2 separate regions of the Homo sapiens genome follow, and region 1 is linked to region 2. The links come from fine-mapping of genetic effects on gene expression. Tissue or cell type: whole blood. Region 2 holds a variant in brackets; the other region holds the start of a gene. All regions are shown on one strand. Distances are from middle to middle.

Region 1 (5,377 bases), 7.8 kb before region 2:
TTTTTTTTTCTTTGAGATGGAGTCTCGCTCTGTTGCCCAGGCTGGAGTGCAGTAGTCCAATCTCAGCTCACTGCAACCTCTGCCTCCCAGGTTCCAGCGATTCTCCTGCTGCAGCCTCCTGGGTAGCTGGGATTACAGGCGCACACCACCACGCCTGGCTTATTTTTGTATTTTTAGTAGAGACGAGGTTTTACCATGTTGGCCAGGCTGGTCCTGAACTCCTGACTTCAGGTGATCCACCCACCTCAGCCTCCCAAAGTGCTAGGATTACAGGCATGAGGCGCCACACCTGGCCTGCTGGTTTTTAAAAAAATGTTCACTTAATAATATATTATAAACATATTCTCAAGTTTCATGAAGTATCCTTTCACAATATCATTTTTGATGGCCCCTTAGTATTCATTATATGGCTCTATCATAATTTTAACAACCAACCCTTGTATGGTTGGACATTGATGTCATTTCCAATTTTTCACTACTATAAAAAAAGTTCCGTGAACATCCCTGCATCTTTTTGACATTGGGTAAGAATTACCTGAGGGTAAATTCCTAGACTGAGGATTCAGGAGTCAAAGGACTTGCCTCACACTAGGGTAATAGCAATTCACACTTTCACTGATAATGCCTGAGACTCTCCAGCTACCCACATCCTCAGCAATATAGAAACAGTCTCCCTCAGACTGCCAGGCTAGAGTGCAGTGGCATGATCACGGTTCACTGTAGCCTTGACCTCCTGAGCTCAAGCCATCCTCCCACTTCAGCCACCTGCATAGCTGGGACCACAGGCACGTGCCACCATGCAGGGCTACTTTTTAAAATTTTTTTGTAGAGCCAGGGTCTCACCATGTTGCCCAGGTTGGTTTTGAAGTCCTGTGTTCCAGCAATCCACCCACCTCAGCCTCCCAAAGTACTGGGATTATAGGCATCAGCCATCGCACCCAGCCCTCACCAATATTATTATTATTATTATTATTATTATTATTATTATTATTATTATTATTATTTTAAGACAGGGTCTCACTGTGTTACTCAGGCTGGAGTGCAGTGGACACCAACAAATAGCTTCCCAGTTATGCAAACGCTTTCATCTACTTAACGTATATTGATTCAACACCTACCATGAGCCAGGCACTCTTCAGGATAATATAGCAGAGGATGGCACAAAGTCTCTGCTGATGATGAGGACTACAACATTCTAGTGGGAGAGACATACAGTAAACAAAGGTCAGTTCTACAGTGATGAATGCCATGAAGAAACGACAAGCAGGAGAGAGGGCTAGACAGTGGGAGAGGTGAGAGAGGATTAGGGTGCTATTGTATGTATAACAGGATGGCCAGAGAAACTTGCCTAGTGATGAGCGGAAGTGAGCCCTGTCATGGATAAATGGGCAGGGGCAGTTACCTTCTCTAGGCAGAGGGAATACAAGGGCGAAGACCGGGAGGCGTGATTGTGCTTGGCTGCTCGAAGAACAGCAAGGAGGCCAGTGGGGCTGGGGCAAGGGAGGGAAAAGCAACAGGAGGTAAGGTGGGGAGGGGTGTGCACAGCTCAGGTAGGACTTTCTAGGCCACAGAACGGTGTTAAGATTTTCTCTGAGTGAGAGGGGAGCCACTGGGGCATTTGAACAGAGGAAGGAAGTAATTTGACTCATGTTTTAAAAAGATCACATTGGCTGGGTGCGGTGGCTCATGCTTGTAATCCCAGCACTTTGGGAGGCCGAGGTGGGCAGATCATCTGAGGTCAGGAGTTCGAGACCAGCCTGGCCAACATGGTGAAACCCCGTCTCTACTAAAAACACAAAAATTAGCCGGGCGTGGTGGTGGGGGCCTGTAATCCTAGCTACTGGGGAGGCTAAGGCATGAGAATCACTTGAACCCGGGAGGTGAAGGTTGCAGTGAGCCGAGATTGCACCACTGTACTCCAGCCTGGGGGATAGAGCGAGACTTTGCCTCCAAAATAATAATAATAATAATAATAATAAATGAATAAATGAAAAGATCACATTGGTTATTCTATGGGGTATAAAGGCAGCAGGGAGTGCTAGGATGAAAGCAGGGATGCCCAGCACGGTGGCTCACACCTGTAATCCCAGCACTTTGGGAGGTCGAGACAGGCGGATCACGAGGTCAGGAGATCGAGACCATCCTGGCTAACACGGTGAAATCCCGTCTCTGTTAAAAATAAAAATAAAAAAAATTAGCCAGGCGTGGTGGTGGGCGCCTGTAGTCCCAGCTACTCGGGAGGCTGAGGCAGGAGAATGGTGTGAACCCAGGAGGCGGAGCTTGGAGCGAGCTGCCCTCCAGCCTGGGCAACAGAGCGAGACTCCGTCTAAAAAAAAAAAATTGGCCGGGCGCGGTGGCTCACGCCTGTAATCCAGCACTTTGGGAGGCCGAGGTGGGCGGATCACGAGGTCAGGAGATCGAGACCATCCTGGCTAACACGGTGAAACCCCGTCTCTACTAAAAATACAAAAAATTAGCCGGGCGAGGTGGCGGGCGCCTGTATTCCCAGCTACGCGGGAGGCTGAGGCAAGAGAATGTCGTGAACCCGGGAGGCGGAGCTTGCAGTGAGAGGAGATGGCGCCACGGCACTCCAGCCTGGGCGACAGCAAGACTCCGTCTCAAAAAAAAAAAAAAAAAAAAAGAAAGAAAGCAGGGAACGTCACTGAGAGGCTCTTACACAACTCCAGGCAAGAAACAGTGGTGCCTCGGACACAGGTAGTAACGGTGGAGACGGTGAGATTGCGGAAGCTTTGGAAGGTGGAGCTCATGCTATTCCTGATGGGTCAGTTTGGGGTGTAGAGATGGGACAGTTGAGTTTGTCAGCGGGAGGTCATCGATGACCTTGACAAGAGCAGTTTCAGTGGAGCGATGGGGGTGAAAGCCCCACAGAGAGAGCTGGAGAGAGAAAAGGAAGGAGGGATGAAGATGGTCAATTCAGAAAACACTGAGATGTTTTCCTGGAAGGGGGAGCAAAGAAATATGACGGTGTGGGTGTGGGGGTGTGTGTGCATGGGCTTGTGCATGTGTGTGTGTGTGTGTACAATTGGAAGAACTGCAGCCGATTGTGTGGTGATGTGAATGAGCCAGCAGAAGAGGGGGACCCCTGGAGCTGTGGGAGAGACGCAAGGAATTGCTCACTGTTGTCCTGGAGGAGGTGAGAGAGGATGAAGGGCAGTGTCCCAGTGGAGGGCGTAGAATTCAAGTTCCACAAGGCGTCCAGGTAACAGGCACGGATACAGGCGGGAGTGAAGGGAGAGGTGGAGTCTGAGGAAGTTTCCTTCTGATTGCTTCTGTTTCCCAGTGAAACAGAAAGCAAGGTCTCCAGCAGCTGACAGCTAGTACAGCAGGTTCTTTTTTTCTCAGGTGTTATAGATAGCTGCGCCTTCCGCTCACCACAGGTGAAATGGTTGGCTTGTATCTGGGGCCACACCACATAAAAACCATTTGAACAGCAGGATCACACTCAGCATGATGAGAGCCCACATGAGGCTGGAAGTGCAGGAACTTGGACCGGCGGGGGGAACCTGGCAGGTCACATTCCCTCTCAAGGGGTGAGTGCTCACCAAGTGGAATTGGAGTGTGACTCTGTAGCAGTGATTCATGCACAACGTGCTCTCTCTCTCTCTCCCCTCCCTTTACACGCGTGTTTAAATGTGTGTAAATTAGGCTGGGTGCAGTGGCTCACGCCCGTAATCCCAGCACTTTGGGAGGCCAAGGTGGGCAGATCACTTGAGGCCGGGAGTTCGAGACCAGCCTGGGCAACCTGGTGAAACACCGTCTCTGTGAAAAATACAAAAATTAGCCGGGCGTGGTGGTGCACATCTATAACCGCAGCTACTTGGGAGGCTGAGGCATGAGAATCACTTGAGCCCAGGAGGTGGAGGTTGCAGTGAGCCGAGATCACGCCATTGCACCCCAGCCTGGGTGACAGAGCAAGACCCTGTCTCAAAGAGAAAAAAAAAATGTGTGTAAGTTAAATGCACCATGATGAAGACTCCACTATAAATGGTGCCGCTGGAACCTCGGGCCTCCTGACTCCACATCAGTTTTGTCTCTACTATAATACTCCATCTCTCATCACACATCACTAGGGAGCACCAAAATTGCAGGGAAGAGGGTAACCCAGGCTGAAAGGAGGAAGAGAGCACTTAAACTAGAAAATTCTAGAACATCAGACCTCGATGGACCTTCACAGATCATTTGGTCCAACACCCTTATTTGACAGACATGGAAAATGTCATTCACTGACTCCCCCAATATCACACAACAGAATCCTCATCATCCCCATCATCATCCCCATCATCATCATCCCCATCATCATCATCACCATCACCATCATCCCCATCATCATCATCCCCATCACCATCATCCCCATCACCATCATCCCCACCATCATCATCCCCATCATCACCATCATCCCCATCATCATCATCCCCATCACCATCATCCCCATCACCATCATCCCCACCATCATCATCCCCATCATCATCATCACCATCATCATCATCCCCATCATCATCACCATCACCACCATCATCATCATCCCCAACATCACCATCATCATCATCCCCATCATCATCACCATCACCATCACCATCATCATCATCCCCATCACCATCATCACCATCACCATCAACATCACCATCATCACCATCACCATCATCCCCATCATCACCATCATCATCACCATCACCATCATCCCTATCATTATCATCCTCCTCCTGATCACCATAATTGTCATCTGCATGGAAGCTAGCCTATATTGATTACTCCCTGCTGCCAAGCTGTGTCCCATTTCATCATCAAAGCCTCTTGAGGTGGCCACTCTCATTATTTTCATTTTACAGGTGGTGAAACATCACAGAGCAGGTAAGGTATAAACTGGGAGACCCTCCTCCCACCCACTCTGTGAAAACCTTTACTAGAGATCTCGCATTGGGCCACTAACCCTAAGATAGGAGGCAGAAGGGGGCTCCCCTTGAAACTCGAAAGAAGTAAATTTAAGACCAGTAAAGGGAAGTTTTGCTTCACACAGAGGGGGTACTGGCTAAAAATACTAGTGGCTTCAAGAAGTATTTAGATCAGTTCATAGATAGTTGATCACAAGGCAGTCAGAGTGATCTTTTAAAGACATAAATTAGGCTGAGCATGGTGGCTCACGCCTGTAATTCCAACACTTTGGGAGGCCAAGGCAGGCGGATCACTTGAGGTCAGGAGTTTGAGACCAGCCCAGCCAACATGGCAAAACCCTGCCTCTACTAAAAAAAAAAAAAAAATTTCCTTGTTGTGGTGGTGGGCACCTGTAATCCCAGCTACTCTGGAGGCTGAGGCATGAGAATCACTTGAACCTGGGAGACAGAGGTTGCAGTAAGCCGAG
Region 2 (5,377 bases):
AGTGAAGGAATCTGATCATACTCTGTTGGGGATGATGTGGAGGTACTGGAATTCTCATCCACTGTGGCAGAGGAAAGGAAGAATGTTAGTCAATACAAGCACTTCAGAAAATCACTTGGCAGCATCTTGTAAAGCTAATTATGTGCATACCCAATGACCCACAATTACAGTCTGAGGTAGGTAGCTTAGAGGAACTCCTACATGTGTGCACCAAGACATAGGTGTAAGAATGATCATGGCAGCCTTATTGGTGATAGCGAAAAACTGGAAACAATCCATGTGCTCATCAACTGGAGAATGGATAAAGTCACTGAATTCTATTTGACAACGGAGTACTAGACAGCAGGAAAAAGGAATGAAGGCCAGCCAAAAGTGCAAAATCATGTACGTATTTTAGAAACATAGTGATGCATGAAAAAATCAAGCCAAAGAAGAATGCACATGCATTGTGCTGTTTATATAAAGATCAAAAAACAAACGTAATAATGTGTTGCACAGGATCCTCCCCATTTGGTAAAATTATTTTTTTTTTCAAAGCAAGGGCATGGAATGATAACCACAAAATTCAGGATAGTGTTTACTTCTGGAGGAAGGCAGGGAATAGGACTGGGGAGGCACACACAGGTGGCCTCAGTGGTGCTGGTGAAGGCCTAGTTCCTAAGCTGGGGCCATGGGTTCACAGGTGTTTGTCTTCATATGCCAGATATTCAACACACATTTTTTGTAATCATCAAATATTACATAGTAAGTTTTGTTTTTTTTAAAAAAATGTAGTTCCTAGGGTTGTTGTAAAAATTAAATGGGGCCGGGTACGGAGGCTCATGCCTGTTATCCCAGCACTTTGGGAGGCCAAGGTGGGTGGATCACCTGAGGTCAGGAGTTCGAGACCAGCCTGGCCAACATGGTGAAACCTAGGCCCTACTAAAAATACAAAAATTAGCTGGGTGTAGTGGCTCATGCCTATAATCCTAGCTACTTCAGAGGCTGAGGCAGGAGAATTGCTTGAACCCAGGAAGCAGAGGTTGCAGTGAGCTGAGATCATGCCACTGCACTCCAACCTGGGCGACAAGAGCGAAACTCTGTCAAAAAAAAGAAGAATTAAATGGGAGTGCAGACAGATTTGTTTATTCATTCAACAAACATCTGCCATATGCCAGGCATCCTCTGAGATGCCAGGGAAGATACAAAAAAGGAGAAGACTATGCAACTGGGACAAGGTGGCTCAAGATTAGAACAGCTAACAGTACCAGCTTTGGATCCAGAGAGACCTGGGTACAAATCCCAACTCTGCTACTTACTAGCTTTGTGACCTTGGGCAAGCTACCTAACCTCCCTCTTCCTCAGTTTTTTCATCTGTAAGTCAGGAATAATAATCATGTAAATGGTATGAGGCTGAGCTAAAGCTACAAAGATTGACTGGCTTGACATGGTACTGAGCATTGGGTAAGAGCTCAGTAAATGTCACTGAGGCAGGAGAATGGCGTGAACCCAGGAGGCGGAGCTTGCAGTGAGCCAAGATCGCGCCACTGCACTCCAGCCTGGGCGACAGAGTGAGACTCGGTCTCAAAAAAAAAAAAAAAAAAGGCTGTTAGAATCATCCAGGTGAGAGATTATGGAGTCCTGAACTAGGGGACCTGGGGTGCAGAGGGACAGGAAGACTAGGAAGAAGGGGACAGATTCTGGAGCAAAACTGGGGAGATAAAATGGATTGGATTGGAAAGCTGGATGAGGAGCTGAGGAGCAGACCTCACCTGGGACAATATCCAGGTGTGTTGCCCTGAGACAGAGAAACCAGAAGAGGCAGGTGGCAGGGGAGAGTGAGATGATGAGTTTGGAGCTGGTCAAGTTGAGTTGGATGCAGGGGAGTTGCCAAGCAGAGATGTCTAGGAGGTGCTGTGTTTATGAATCAGGGACTCAGGAAGGGCAGAGCTCAGCTTAAAGAAGGTAACTGGGAGTGGGTGAGTTGTCCTGGGAGGATGTAGAGGCTGCGCAGTAGGCCGAGGTGCCCATGACTGCGGAGGCAGGAGGAGGAAGGGCTGCGGGGGCCTGCAAGGGAGCTGCTAGCTAGATAGGAGGAAGACGAAGAAGGGGATCCAAACTTGCCCTGAAGTTGAGGGAGGTGACAGCTTGGAGGAGAAAGGTGAGGTCCACTCCAGAGTCAGGTGTCACAGAAGGGCTGAGAAGAGGTCACTGGATCTAGCCATCAGGGTTGTCCATGCCCTGGGCAGGAACATTTTCCTGGTGTGAGGGGGACTGGACTCTGGAGAAGCTCAACGGTGAAAAGTCTTTCTCAGTGCACCCAGGGTGAATCATGGCCCCTTCCCAGCCGAGGTCCATTCTGCCTGCTTCTTCATCCTGCCCCTCACACTCCATGGATGGTACTCCGTGCCTAGTCCTGGTTGGTCTATACACTCCAGGAGCAATCGCTAGGAATCACGATAAGTGTATTCTCCATTTGAGCCTTGTTTCAGTCAGTCCTGAGAGGTCTGTATTATTTTCACCCCCATTTTACAAATAAGCAGACTGAGGCTCTGCCCCACGTGCCCAAGACTGGGGATAGGTTTCATCCCTAACTTGTGGGTCGCATTTGAGAACAGGAAACCCACATCATCTGAACCTACAACATCCAGACTCGGTGGTTCTCAAACTTCAGCCTGCCTACAAATCACCTGAGATTCCTATGAATTCTGCTCTTGGGCCCCAAACTGCAGGAATTGATCGAGCAGGTGTGAAGCCGTATTTGGAGATGTGTGTTGTTAACCAGCACCCCAGGTGGTTCCCATGCAGGTGACCGAAGTCCACCCTTGAGGAAGCATTAACCCAACCCTGTGCGGCACAGAGGGTATTTCAGGCACTGGATTGGTCTGGACCCCAAGCAACCGGTTTCTGGCGATCAGTTAGGGCTCTGGCTGCAGCTGGGAGCGGATTGGGGCGGAGGGAGGCAGAGGGCGGTAATAAAGAAACAACAGGAAGCTCTGCTTTTATTAGCCCTGGGTAGTAGCAGCTGCAGGTGAGTAATCTGATTTCTGCGGCGTCCTGTTTTCTCCGCTGCCTGGCGGTTCCTCGACACCCACTCACCTGCCGCCAGCCACGGGAGAGAGGGCAGGGGGGAGGGAGGATGGGCGTGGGGCCCCGCCCGCCCAGGTCCCTCGCCCACGCCCACGCGGGCGCACCCGCCGCGCCGACGCCGCCACCGGCTGCGCACCTGCCGCGCTTGCTGCGGGGAAGCCAGGCTCTGCTGTGGCGGCGGCGGCGGCGGCGGCGGCTGGCGGGGAGGAGACGCGGAC[T/G]CCCACTCGCGGCCCTATCGCTTGCTCCCCGCCTCCCCGCCAGAGCTGCGCCACCAGGCTCTGGGCGCGCTCCCATGATCGGAAGGCTGAGAGCCGTCTCCCAGCTCCACCCTTGACTTCTGAACCTCAGTTGCTGCTTCTGTCAAATGGGAGCACGTCCACCTACCAGTGCTAGACTGGAGAGATCAGGAAAGGGGTGCTAAAGTTACAAACTGTAAAGGGCTGTAGCGATCACCAAGGCATCGGAAGGAAACTGGCCAAGAAAGGCAAGTCTCTTAGCTTTGCTGGGCCTCGGTTTCCTTATCTGTAACATGGGAATGAGTAACCCTTCCTCATAAGCAGATGATGCTCGTGACGTGGATGGAACGCAGAGCAGGACAAGGGCAGTGGCTGCCGTGGGGTCATTATTACTGTTGCTGTTAGCCCAGGCCAGAATCTGCATTCCCTCTTCTTACTTGGATACCCCGGTTTTCCCTGGTTCTCAGCACACGTTTAGGAAATGGGGGGCTTGGATCACAAAAGGATTTTCAGGGTCAGGGGCTTGCCCAAGACTGGGGATTGGCTCCATCCCTAACTCTCTGAACCAAGCTTTCCATCTGTAAAATGGGGTTGACAACAACTTCCCTGAAACCCACAGACATATAAAGACCAATGAGAAACTCAGAAACACCTGGTAAACTGCGAAGTACTACCCACATGCAAAGACTGTAATTATTTCTTCCAGGTGCCTCTTTGCCCTAAAGAGTCAAGGATGAGTCAAGAACCAAATGAGATGAGCCAGGAGGATCCCTGTGAGAAGGGCCGGATGGCATTCCCCTTTACCCATGGAGCTCACTGCAGTGTGCAGCGATGGCCCAAGGGTGGAGAGGAAGGTCAGGCTGGGTCCTGCCCTTGGGGGCTCATGTCCCAGTTAGCCCACGACGCAAAGGCCCAGGTGTGATGGGAGCACAGAAGAGGGGGGAAGCCGACTCTCTGGGCAAGGGGGATCAGGCTGGTACAGGGGGTACTTCCCAGAGGAGTCAGCCTTGACGGGACTCTCTGAAAAATGGTTGTAGCTCAGGTGGGGAGAGGGGCAAGGCACGTGCTGGACAGAGACGGATTCCAGCAGAAAAGTCCAGAGACAAGAAAGGGGGTAGTGTGCTCAGGAAAAGGGCGTGAAACGTGACTGAAATGCAGGATGGGGAGAGGAAATGGATTCAAGATAAAGTCAAATTGGAGCCGGGCATGGTGGTGCACGCCTGTAATCCCAGCTACTTGGGAGGCTGAGGCAGAAGAATCACTTGAACCCCAGAGGCAGAATTTGCAGTGAGCCAAGATCACACCACTGCACTCCAGCCTGGGTGACAGAGTGAGACTCTGTCTCAAAAAAAAAATTTAAAAAAAAAAAAAGATGAAGTCGAATTGGGAATGGCCTCCAGTTACCACCCTAGGAAGCTCAGACTTTATCCTGAGGTTGACAGGGAGCCACGCAGGGTTTGCAGCAGGAGTGACATGGTCAGTTGTGGGTTCTAGAAAGATCTCTGTGGTAGGCTGGGCATGGTGGCTCACACTTGTAATCCCAGCACCTTGGGAGGCCAAGGCAGGTGGATCACTTGAGGTCAGGAATTCAAGACCAGCCTAGCCAACATAGTGAAACCCCGTCTCTACTAAAAATACAAAAATTAGCCAGGTGTGGGGGTACGTGTCTATAGTCCTAGCTACTTGGGAGGCTGAGGCAGGAGAATTGCTTGGACCCGCGAAGCGGAGGTTGCCGTGAGCCGAGATTGCACCACTACACTCCAGCCTGGCCAACAGAGTGAGACTCCATCTCAAAAAAAAAAAAAATCTCCATAATAGGTATGGAGGATGGACAAAGGGGGAGGAAAGGGAGGACAGATTCAAGTTGTTGTGGTGAGCTGAAGGAGGCCTGAACCAAGGTAATGGCAATGGGGTGGGGTGGGGGGGAGTTGGGCAAGAACTTTCTGAAACTGAACAGCAGTAGATCCAGGAGAACAATTAGAGGGAGAGACACAAAATAAAGGTGACAGAATTTCCTGTATCAGGAGCTGAGGTAGATGATGACAGCATTAACCCAGGAAGGTGGCAGGCAG

Evidence for each region. PIP is the estimated chance that this variant, and not a neighbour inherited with it, causes the effect.
Region 1: MDS2 starts here. The variant in region 2 is fine-mapped to the expression of MDS2 in whole blood (TOPMed, PIP above 0.99).

The regions. Positions count from the first base shown.
Region 1 is chr1:23,625,299-23,630,675 of GRCh38, reverse strand. MDS2 (myelodysplastic syndrome 2 translocation associated) reads right to left here and starts at 3,342. Exons shown (of 6, transcript NR_167910.1): 1 at 3,139-3,342; 2 at 2,678-2,895; 3 at 2,079-2,169; 4 at 1,119-1,195. RefSeq lists an enhancer at 4,769-4,888.
Region 2 is chr1:23,617,458-23,622,834 of GRCh38, reverse strand. No RefSeq gene overlaps it. Among named protein-coding and RNA genes, the nearest start is that of MDS2, 7.2 kb to the left of the region's middle. RefSeq lists a silencer at 3,047-3,316 and enhancers at 2,822-3,322, 3,323-3,823. The variant T/G (reference allele first, on the strand shown) is at 3,288.